2 separate regions of the Homo sapiens genome follow, and region 2 is linked to region 1. The links come from fine-mapping of genetic effects on gene expression. A gene starts in region 1. The other region holds a variant in brackets. All regions are shown on one strand. Distances are between the middles of the regions.

What was found. PIP is the estimated chance that this variant, and not a neighbour inherited with it, causes the effect. A credible set is the group of variants that fine-mapping cannot tell apart.
Region 2: its variant is the best candidate, but not a certain one, in a credible set for the expression of GPAT4 in whole blood (INTERVAL, PIP 0.73).

What each region holds. Positions count from the first base shown.
Region 1 is chr8:41,575,757-41,581,124 of GRCh38, forward strand. GPAT4 (glycerol-3-phosphate acyltransferase 4) reads left to right here and starts at 2,444. Exons shown (of 13, transcript NM_178819.4): 1 at 2,444-2,522. GPAT4-AS1 (GPAT4 and GINS4 antisense RNA 1) reads right to left here and starts at 2,612. Exons shown (of 3, transcript NR_125824.1): 1 at 2,550-2,612. RefSeq lists silencers at 2,171-2,790, 2,811-2,950.
Region 2 is chr8:41,620,382-41,625,749 of GRCh38, forward strand. GPAT4 (glycerol-3-phosphate acyltransferase 4) reads left to right here. Exons shown (of 13, transcript NM_178819.4): 13 at 512-4,620. The coding sequence ends at 620. Among named protein-coding and RNA genes, the nearest start is that of NKX6-3, 28 kb to the right of the region's middle. RefSeq lists an enhancer at 2,620-2,719. The variant G/A (reference allele first, on the strand shown) is at 2,609.

The DNA of each region.
Region 1 (5,368 bases):
TGTTTCATCTGCCCATTTACATTCCTTGTACCTAGAAATGAATGTGATAAAAGTTTTGGTGCCTACAGGAACTATATTTACCTAGTTCATGTTGGCTTCCCACTCAGAGGGAAGTTTGATTGCCTTCCTGCACTTGAGAAGTTTAGAGAATGTGCCAGTGAATGTGCACACTCACAAGGTGTGTGTGTGTATCAGTGTTAATACCCAACAATTGAGCCTACTATTTGCTTGGGCAAAGAACACCATTTTCTCTTGAGCCTCTAATATGTGTGAAATATTTTAAGATTTCAATATTATGTACAAAGAACTAGTAGATGGTAAGAATTGTGAGAAAATATAACCATGAGAACACAAAGAGAGTACAGCAGATGAGTGGGCTACTTCCAAGACTGGTTCTGGGGGCAGAAAAGGAGACCAGACGAAGGACTCCAAAGAGCAGTTGAGATCCTGGTGGCCACTTTAAATCCCTATCCCTAGCACTGTGGAGAACACAACACAAAAATGTATGATGTCTGGTTTCTTCTTCTTTTTTTTTTTTTTTTCTGAGATGGAGTCTCCCTCTGTCGCCCAGGCTGGAGTGTAGTGGTGCGATCTCAACTCACTGCAACCTCCGCCTCCTGGGTTCAAGCAAGTCTCCTGCCTCAGCCTCCCGAATAGCTGGGATTACAGGTGCGCACCACCACGCCCGGCTAATTTTTGTATTTTTAGTAGAGACGGAGAGACGGGGTTTCACCATGTTGGTCAGGCTGGTCTCGAATGCCTGACCTCGTGATTCCCCCGCCTCAGCCTCCCAAAGTGCTGGGATTACAGGGGTGAGCCACCGCGCCCGGTGGTTTCTTCTCTTATGGAATTTAATGTCGTTGACGATTAGACGTGGCCATGCATTACTCAATCTTGAATTGGGATCCCCAAAAAAGCTGGGCGAGTAACAAGGGCTCAATGAATGGATAAGTGATTGAGTTAATAAATACGTGATCAGTTCCAAATGGGTAACATTTAGTTATATTTGGTGGAGATAAGTAGTCCAGTGTTTTGGAGCTAAGTGGTTATTCTTTTTTTTTTTTTTTTTTTTGAGTTTGGGTCTCGCTCTGTCACACAGGCTGGAGTATAGTGCCACAATCTCAGTTCACTGCAACATCTGCCTCCTGGGTTCATGCAATTCTCCTGTCTCAGCCTCCCGAGTAGCTGGGATTACAGGTGCGTGCCATCACCCCCGGCTAAATTTTGTATTTTTAGTAGAGACGGGGTTTCACCATGTTGGCCAGGCTGGTCTCAAACTCCTGGCCTTAAGTGATCTGTCCGCCTCTGCCTCCCAAAGTGCTGGGATTACAGGCGTGAGCTACCCGCGCCCCGCTCCCCCCACCATTTTTTTTTAATTTTCAAAATTTTTGTAGAAGTGGGGGTCTCGTTACGTTGCCCCGGCTAGTCTCAAACTCCTGGCCTCAAGCGATCCTCCTGCTTTGGCCTCCCAAAACGCTGGGATTACTGGCGTGAACTACCATACTCTGCCCTTTATTCTTACAGAGATTTTGAGGTCTAAGAATGTGGACTTTAAAGATTTCATTATCAGATTATGCATTTAGCACGGAATGACAATCTGACAGCCGTGTACAGCGTAAACCGGCGGAGAGGGCTTGGCACTAAAGGCAAACTGTCTTTTAAGAACAGGAAAAAGAAAGGTAATATATATTTTAAGGAGGTCCCATTTTAGGGGAGATAATAAGCTTGGGTTAGGCGTCCGAAGTCAGAAGATATAGTAAGAAACACACACGCAAACTCCAGCAGCCACCAGCTAGACTTGAGTAGAGAGAGCAGGTCCAAGTGGAGGTGGAAGTTGGAAAGTTGCATCTGCCAGGCAGGGCGAAAGTGGCCTACACCCACTCCTGGAGCACCCTGCTTGACGAGCAAGGTAGACGAGGCTGAGGGATACTGCTGGTGATGACGGTGGTCGTGGTGATGGTGCTGGTAGCTAACAGATCTTGAGCGTACCAGGCCCTGAGCTGAGTCCTCTAACGGGCAGAATGTCGCTGCATACGGACAGCAGCCTCAAGAGGACAAGGTGATTTAGTGACTCTAGCCTCTTCCCGCGGTGCCAGCCTGATTTCACCCTCTCCGGAACACACAAGCGAACCTCCGGGGAGGGAGCCAGTATCGGGTCCTAACGCAGGGAAGCGCTCCGCTTTCTGAGAGGGACGCGCCAGCGGAGGGACAGCCAGGGCCCGGCCTCTCCTGCTCCTGCCCCGCCCCGCCCCCGGCAGTGCCCCCTAGTCCGCCAGAGGGCGACTCCGCGGGTCGCCCAACCCGCGACCGGTCCACGCGGCACCCGCCTCTCCCTAGGCCCCCGCCCTGCCGGCCCGCGCGCGCCCGACGGGAGCGTGCGGGGCGGTGGGCGCAGGGTCACGTTGGGCGGCGCAGACAAAGGCGGGCGCGCGCACGTCCTGACGCAGCTTGGGCCCGCGGCGGCGGCAAGGGCGGGAGGGAGCGGTCGCCGCGGGATTTGGAGCTGCCTAGCCTCGCGGTCGGTGAGTAGGAGGGAGCTGGCCCCTTACCTCAAAGTCTCCGACCTCCGGGGAGCCGAGAGCGGGACGTGGGAGCCGGGCTTGGGCGGCCGCGCGGGGCCTGCGGTCTGGGACGCCCCGGCGACGCTGCGCCGGCGTCAGGAGGCACCATCGCCGCGCCCCGGGGATCCCCGGCGGGTGGAGCGGGTGCCCCCCGTCCGGGATGGAACGGTCCGCGCCCGCCCCGAACCCCGGCCGCCCGCCTCTCCGCTCGCCTGCTCTCCGAGCCCGGCTCCTCGGAGCCCCTCGCCTCCCCCAAGTCCCAGGTGTGCGCAGCCCTCCCGCCCCGGGAGTCCGGGGATGTGGGTGGCGAGGGCTGCTGGGCGTTGGAGCACCAGGAAGCGCCTTCCCCTGTCATTCCCCTTCCTGTGTTCTCTGGCTGCCGTAAGATGCATGTCTTTACCCTCTCCTTCTCCAAATGCATGCTCCCATTTTTCTTTAGGATTTCTTAACTCCTGAAATCCCTTGCCTTTCCTTTTTTATTTCAGCACCCTCTGAGGCATCCTTCTCCCAGTGGGGCTTGTTTATTTCCTCGCTTTCCATGTCACAGAGGGCTGAAGTTTAGCTGTTCAGAAGTTGCAGAAAATAGCTTATAGGAGACATACGGTGTAGCACGATGGAAATAAGTTCCATCCTCTGCCAAGTATTACCATGGATCTTCTCATGGATAACCTTGAGGTCATTTGAGGAATTTTGTTTTTGGTTCATTTTCCTTAATTTTGGCTGAACTTTGAGGAGCTCTCCTTAGTTTCATGTCTTGTAGATTCTATCTCAATCCAAGGGAAATGGTGTGAAGAGCAGTTATACCATACCAAAGTCTCCAGACAAAATCCTGTAATAATGCCAATCAAATATACTTCTCTCTTTGAAAGAGATGTGCTTTTCTTTTCTTTTTTAACTTTGTATTTTGGAGAATTTCAGACACAGGGAAATAGATGGAATAGGGAACCAGCATGTACTTGTTCTGGCCTCCTCAGCCACTTAACTGTGGCTATTCCTGTGCCATACACACCCCACCCATTTCCCCTCCCGTATGTCTCAGGGAGAACTTGATGCAAGATGAGTCTGTCAAAAGTAGCTTCAGTTCCATAATGAAAACCACCATACCAAGTCATAAGGTGCTTTTTGTTTTGGAACACAGCCTACTCATGAGGTCTTCAGCTAAGAAACACAGTAGAGTTGAAGAAAGAGCACAGCAAAAGGTATCTTAACATGATAGAACAGGTTAAAAGAAAAAGTATGGCCGGGCGTGGTGACTCACGCCGGTAATCCCAGCACTTTGGGAGGCCGAGGCGGGCGGATCACCTAAAGTCAGGAGTTCAAGACCAGCCTGGCCAACATGGTGAAACCCTGCATATACTAAAAATACAAAAATTAGCCGGACGTGGTGGCAAGTACTTGTATTCCCAGCTACTCGGGAGGCTGAGGCCGGAGAATCGCTTGAACCCAGGAGGCAGAGGTTGCAGTGAGCCAAGATTGCGCCGCTGCACTCCAGCCTGGGCGACAGAGCGAGACTCGTGTCAAAAAAAAAAAGAAAAGAAAAAAAGTGTTTCAGATCTGGATGAGAACATTCGGAACGTCCTGTTCAATGTTTTCATTTTTTTCTGAGCCCTTGGAGGTCCAGAGAAGTTCAGTGACTTGTCCAGAGCTGCAGGTCTTAAGAGGCTGAAATCTCGCCTCTGCCTCGAGGCTGCGGTTCCACTGACCCATACTACTTGCCTTCAGGAAAGAGAAATGGTGTAGGAAGGCTGTGGATGAAGACGCTTACATTCATGAAGGATTTGGATAGGCGAACATGAGCTTTTCCACCAAATTTCAGAATTTTAAGAAATGCCTTAAATTATTTCTTAAAAATCAATTTGGGGCAGACGAGAAGTTCTGATAATAGTTTTTAGGGAACATGATAAAATTCTGACCTTAGAAGTGGTATACCAGTTTGAGAAGAAGAACAAGCTATAAACGGTGTAGATAACATTCACGGCTATTTAAGAAAGAGTTACTAAGGGAAACCAGAATGACTTAAGAGTGTTACTCTTCTTTTTCTGAGAGAACAATAGCATCATCTCAGAAAGCCTTTCATGCCATTAATAGGTAAGAATCTGGGCTTCTTGGACCATGGGTTAGACTTTCTTACAAAACCATAATATGCATTTCCTAGCAAAATTTATGCTATTACATTTCCTTATCTCAACAAAGACTGGTAAATTCAGTACTTATTCCTCAATTTTCCTACCCTTAAAATGGGGATATTCTGCCTCTCCAAGGAATGCTGGGAACAAGCAAGTCCTCATGTTAGGGGTCTTTGAGTTTTCATGGAAGTTTAGGTTATTTATATGATGACATAGTTGTCAACTTACTTTCAGGATGGACTTTTCTTTTGTGAGTTTGTGACCTAAATACAATAGTTGTTATGCATGTCCAGTTTATGGAAGTACCACTGCAATAACAGCATTTGAGTGTCATGGTAAATCATTACCCCTAAAGATAGAGGAGGGAGGAGGAGGCAACTGTTGTGTGTCTATTTTGTGTTTGGTGTGAGGAGTGTTGTGGCTAGGCTCTTCAGAGGCTAGCCTAACTTGCTAAGTGGTTTCTGCTAAAGAAAAACCCACTTTTCTTGTGTGTGCTTGTCACCACAAGTTAGCTTTTATTAAAAACAAAACAAAACTCTCTAAGCTATCTGGAGATGATTTGGCCCTGGTTAAACATGAACTGTACTGCAGAATTGTTTGTTTGGGTAAAGTAGAACCTCATTATGACGTGTCTTTTACTTCCTACTGTGTCATTGTGCTCATGGAGAGAACTTGACGGAA
Region 2 (5,368 bases), 45 kb after region 1:
ACGGCACTCTTTTTTTGAGCATGGAAGAAGTCAGAACACGCGTTACCCCTTGTGTTAGCTCTCTGCATGAGTTCAGAGTATCCCTGGGTCTGAATTAAACAAATGACATTTTACAGATAGATTTTACAGATACGTTATGAGTCGATATTTCTTAAAGCATGTCTACCTTCCATAATGCCAGAATTCCTCCTTTTCCTTTGTGAGGTGAAGATGAATGTTAGAGTAGAAAGAATTGTAAACTCCTTGGTAGGTTTAAGCAGTTATCAAGTACCTTGAATGTGAGTAGTAAATTCTCACCCAAGGGCAAGGGTAGACCTTTTGAGATAGAAAGGGTGGATATTGGGATCCCGGAGCCCCAAATCCCCTGAGGTTGTCTTGGTGAGAGTGCCACGGGGTACCCTGTTTCTGGCAGGTTTTTCTTGGTGTTTGGGCAGCATGGTGCATCTCCCATGGTGTGAGCGTGGCTGGGAGCCCTCTTGGCTGTTACTACATCCAGCCTTTGTCTCTCCAGGGATGGGGGCCTGAAGAGGGAGAAGGTGAAGGACACGTTCAAGGAGGAGCAGCAGAAGCTGTACAGCAAGATGATCGTGGGGAACCACAAGGACAGGAGCCGCTCCTGAGCCTGCCTCCAGCTGGCTGGGGCCACCGTGCGGGGTGCCAACGGGCTCAGAGCTGGAGTTGCCGCCGCCGCCCCCACTGCTGTGTCCTTTCCAGACTCCAGGGCTCCCCGGGCTGCTCTGGATCCCAGGACTCCGGCTTTCGCCGAGCCGCAGCGGGATCCCTGTGCACCCGGCGCAGCCTACCCTTGGTGGTCTAAACGGATGCTGCTGGGTGTTGCGACCCAGGACGAGATGCCTTGTTTCTTTTACAATAAGTCGTTGGAGGAATGCCATTAAAGTGAACTCCCCACCTTTGCACGCTGTGCGGGCTGAGTGGTTGGGGAGATGTGGCCATGGTCTTGTGCTAGAGATGGCGGTACAAGAGTCTGTTATGCAAGCCCGTGTGCCAGGGATGTGCTGGGGGCGGCCACCCGCTCTCCAGGAAAGGCACAGCTGAGGCACTGTGGCTGGCTTCGGCCTCAACATCGCCCCCAGCCTTGGAGCTCTGCAGACATGATAGGAAGGAAACTGTCATCTGCAGGGGCTTTCAGCAAAATGAAGGGTTAGATTTTTATGCTGCTGCTGATGGGGTTACTAAAGGGAGGGGAAGAGGCCAGGTGGGCCGCTGACTGGGCCATGGGGAGAACGTGTGTTCGTACTCCAGGCTAACCCTGAACTCCCCATGTGATGCGCGCTTTGTTGAATGTGTGTCTCGGTTTCCCCATCTGTAATATGAGTCGGGGGGAATGGTGGTGATTCCTACCTCACAGGGCTGTTGTGGGGATTAAAGTGCTGCGGGTGAGTGAAGGACACATCACGTTCAGTGTTTCAAGTACAGGCCCACAAAACGGGGCACGGCAGGCCTGAGCTCAGAGCTGCTGCACTGGGCTTTGGATTTGTTCTTGTGAGTAAATAAAACTGGCTGGTGAATGAACTGGGGGACTTCTCCCTTTACTTTCTCCCCTGGCTGTGGCCCTGAGTAGCAGGCTTCTCGTGAGGATTCCCGTTCTCTTCTGGGAGCATGGCCCTGGGGCTGCGGAGAAGCCAACTGACTGCTGGAGCGAGGAACCCTGCAGCTCAGAAGGTGAACAGCTCGTCTCAGATGCTTGCAGATCTTTGGTTAATTTAGAATTTCCAGCACAGACGTGGATTTCTCCAGAGACGGGGTGTGTGCGGGTCGCTGATGTGAGGCCTAGGGGAAGCAATGAGTAAACTCCAGGGTGGGGGAGGAGCAAGGGCCCGGGGAGGGCTGCAGAGGGGCCGGGGCGGGGCAGGGCCTGTGCTGCATGGTGGCTTCTGCAGGGGAGGGACAGGGGAGGGCTGCAGAGGGGCAGGGTGGGCAGGGCATGTGCTGCATGGCAGCTTCTGCACAGCCAGAGCAGGCACCACAGGAAAAGAGTCGGCCACTGGTGCCTGCTGTACAGTCACAGTGGAGGCAGAGCCAAGGCCAAGCAGCCCCTGTGGGTTCTGGGGTTTCACCAGTTTCATGCTCCTCAGCTCCCCATTCATGCCCCACCAGCCCTCACTTGGGACCCATGCTCCCTCGTGGCACAGTCATGATGCCTCTCAGGATTTTGTGCCTGTGGTGCTGAGTGTCACGTCCCCAAGGTCGCCCTCTGGCCTGCAGTTCAGGGAGTGGGTGGGAGTGAAGCTGTGCTCCTGGGGCTGCAGACAGATCCACTTTGCATGTGGTACCTGCTGGGTTGGCCCTGCAATCTCCTTTTCTCTGCACCTACCTGTGACCTCCCTGGGAGAGCCTCCCATTTCCTCACCTGCCCTGTTGCCAGCCCGGGGGAAATCTTTTTGCTCTCAAATGAAGACTGAAAAAATAAAGTCAGTGTTATGACTAATAAGTCTCTTAGGAACTGTTTTACAAAATGCTTAAGAATAAAAAGTGATTTTCAGCTTTTATAGGTGATGTTTACAGTGTTTGTAAACCAACTGGAGGGATCAGTAATTGGTCTTAAAAGATCAGGTTCTCTTTTAAAAAGTTCATCTGAAACTTTATG[G/A]TTTGTTACTTTCGTGATTTGCATAGGTATTTATATATACACACACACACAGGTTTTGCTTTTGTCTCACATTCAGCACAGCTGTCTGCGGCCCCTGCCGGCAGGTGTGGCCGCACCTGGTGTGAAGTCACGTGGAGTCAGTGCTGTGGAGGGAAGTCCTGTGCGGGCCGGGCAGTGAGGAGAGCACTGATTCACGCCTGCAGAAACGTAACCTCCCCTTTCCGTGTATGCCTTTTACCATCATCCAGGCGACTGCTCCATCCTTTTAAATTAGGGGTCCTGCAAGCCCCAAGTGACCCATAGTCAGAGTATCTGGTTTGGGGTAACCGAGTTGGTCTTATGGGGCAAAAACTCAAGACACTTAGAAACATGCAAAGTACAAAATAATGTGTTCCCTCCTGTTACCCCAGCAAGGGTGGGGCTGAGCTGGGAATGACACCCAGTGGTGTAATGAGTGGAAAGTGCTGGTCAGCTGCTAACCCCCCTCCAAGCCTGCTGCACCTTCACTTCTCTGCATCCGTCTCCTGAGTCATAACTAGGGACTTGGCTAGATGACCTCAGAGACCTCGTCCACCTCTGAATTCTCTGTTTTTAAGCCCATAGTTCAAACTTTGGCTTTGATCTCTGAAGTCTTCTGGGTTTGGAAATACGGGAAGTCAGCTTTGAATCCATTGCTTCTCTAAAACATCAGGGCTAGTGGAACTAACCCACTTGAGGGTGACCTCAAGGGCTTTAGGCAGCCATGGGGCTGGGGCCATACTGCTCTCAGGCTGGGCAGTATCTTCATTGTGGTTCTCAGACAGCCTTTTTTACTCAAACATGAGACTTTCCACCCACCAGTTAGGGAACTTTTTTTTTTTTTTTAAACACGGAGTTTCACTCTTGTTGCCCATGCTGGAGTGCAATGGCACAATCTCAGCTCCACTGCAACCTCTACCTCCCGGGTTCAAGTGATTCTTCTGCCTCAGCCTCCAAGTAGCTGAGATTACAGGCATGCACCACCACACCCAGCTAATTTTTTGTATTTAGTAGAGACTGGGTTTCACCATGTTGGTCAGGCTGGTCTCCAACTCCTGACCTCAGGTGATCCACTCTCCTTGGCCTCCCAAAGTTCTGGGATTACAGGCGTGAGCCACTGCGCCCAGCCAAGAGGGAACTTTTTAATAAAGCTAGTGGGATTCCCTTGACAGCAGAACCAGCCTTGGGACTTGATGCTTCACCGTGTCAGAATCCGTCCCTGGTGCTGCCTTTCAGAGAAGAGGCTTGATGTGTGAGGGGTCAGGGGGAGTGCTCCAGATCCCTGAAATGCCCTTCCCAGACCAGTGACAGGCATTTTTGGGTGCCATCGTGTGACCTTCACGGCACAGCAAACAGTGGGCACTAACCCTGTTGTCCTGTGGAAATCTGGGTCTCTGAATCCTGCCATTTCCTTCCTGGAATTGGCCAGGAACTTGATTTTCTGGGCTATTGCTTGCTAGTGTCCCCTGATGCATGAAGGATCCCCCCATGTCATAGGTCCCACCTGCCTGCTGTGCATCCCGGGTGGCCAGACTCGGCTTCTCCAGGTGCACTTGTCCCAGGTGGCCCGGTCCGTAGGCTGGAAGGGCAGCTGCAGGTGCACTGCCTCGCGGACAGGTTAGGATATGGCCACGCAGCCATCCATCTTCTACAGCACGCACACCCCACTCTCTCCCCCAGTCAATATGTCTCTCTCCGATGGGAAAGTTAATAAATTTTGCTCTAGATTAAAAGTATTGATCATTTCATTTGTAAACGATAAATAAAAAGGGGGAACTTTTCATTGCGCCAGGGGTGGCACCTGGCGTGTGTTGCGGGGGTGATTGCGCTGGCTGCCGGGGGGTGGGCTTCTCATATGCATTCTGGCCGGCCAGCTGCATTGATTTCCTATTAGTCTCCCAGCACCACCCAGTAACACATCATTTCAGTACCTGCTATTAATGGTCTTTTGATAAATAATCACTTGTAAGTCAATAAATTTTTATTAAACAGTGTGGCTCTTTGATTTATTAAAATCCGACCGTGTTTGTCTGGGAGAAAAGGGATGCCGAATTGAAGTGGAGGTTTTCATACATCTTCCTGACGCGGAGCAGTCACCACACACTCCAGAGAAAAACAATTGCATTTTAACAGAAACAAAACGGCCGAGTTTGGAACTTGGGCCCAGGCAAACTTTATCTCCGTCAGCCTGAGGCTTACTCTGCAGGGATCAGCTGCAGGCTGGAGGGCGCCGAGTTGAGAACTTTGTGTTGGCCTCCAAGAGTGCCCAGGTGCCAGGGCTGGATGCCTCTGCTGGGCTGCGTTCTGAGATGGCACGTACCGGCCCTCTCCCAGCTGGGGATGCACCCTGGGGCAGGCACCCTTTGTCAGCAGACATCTGTCATCAACAAGAGAAGCTCGTGTGGCAGGACCCTTTAGCTTCCTTCCTGGCCAAATCGCCACCAGAGTCACCTGTGGCAGGAAGATGTGGCAGGAGACAGTCTTTTGCAGCAATCGGGCTGTGTGGATTATTTCTTACAGTGTGGGCCAATAGCTGAAGACTGGAAATGCCTTTTTGTGAGATTTTCATTGGCATAGAGTTTGCTGTAAAGAGTTTGGCACTTTATCGAGACAAATATGGCCCCAAACAGATGGTCTTACATAGATCAACCCAACCACTGACGATACAACCAGAATTCTTACCCAGGGGAAGTTGTAGGAAAGGGAAAACACTTTTTTTTTTATTGATCATTCTTGGGTGTT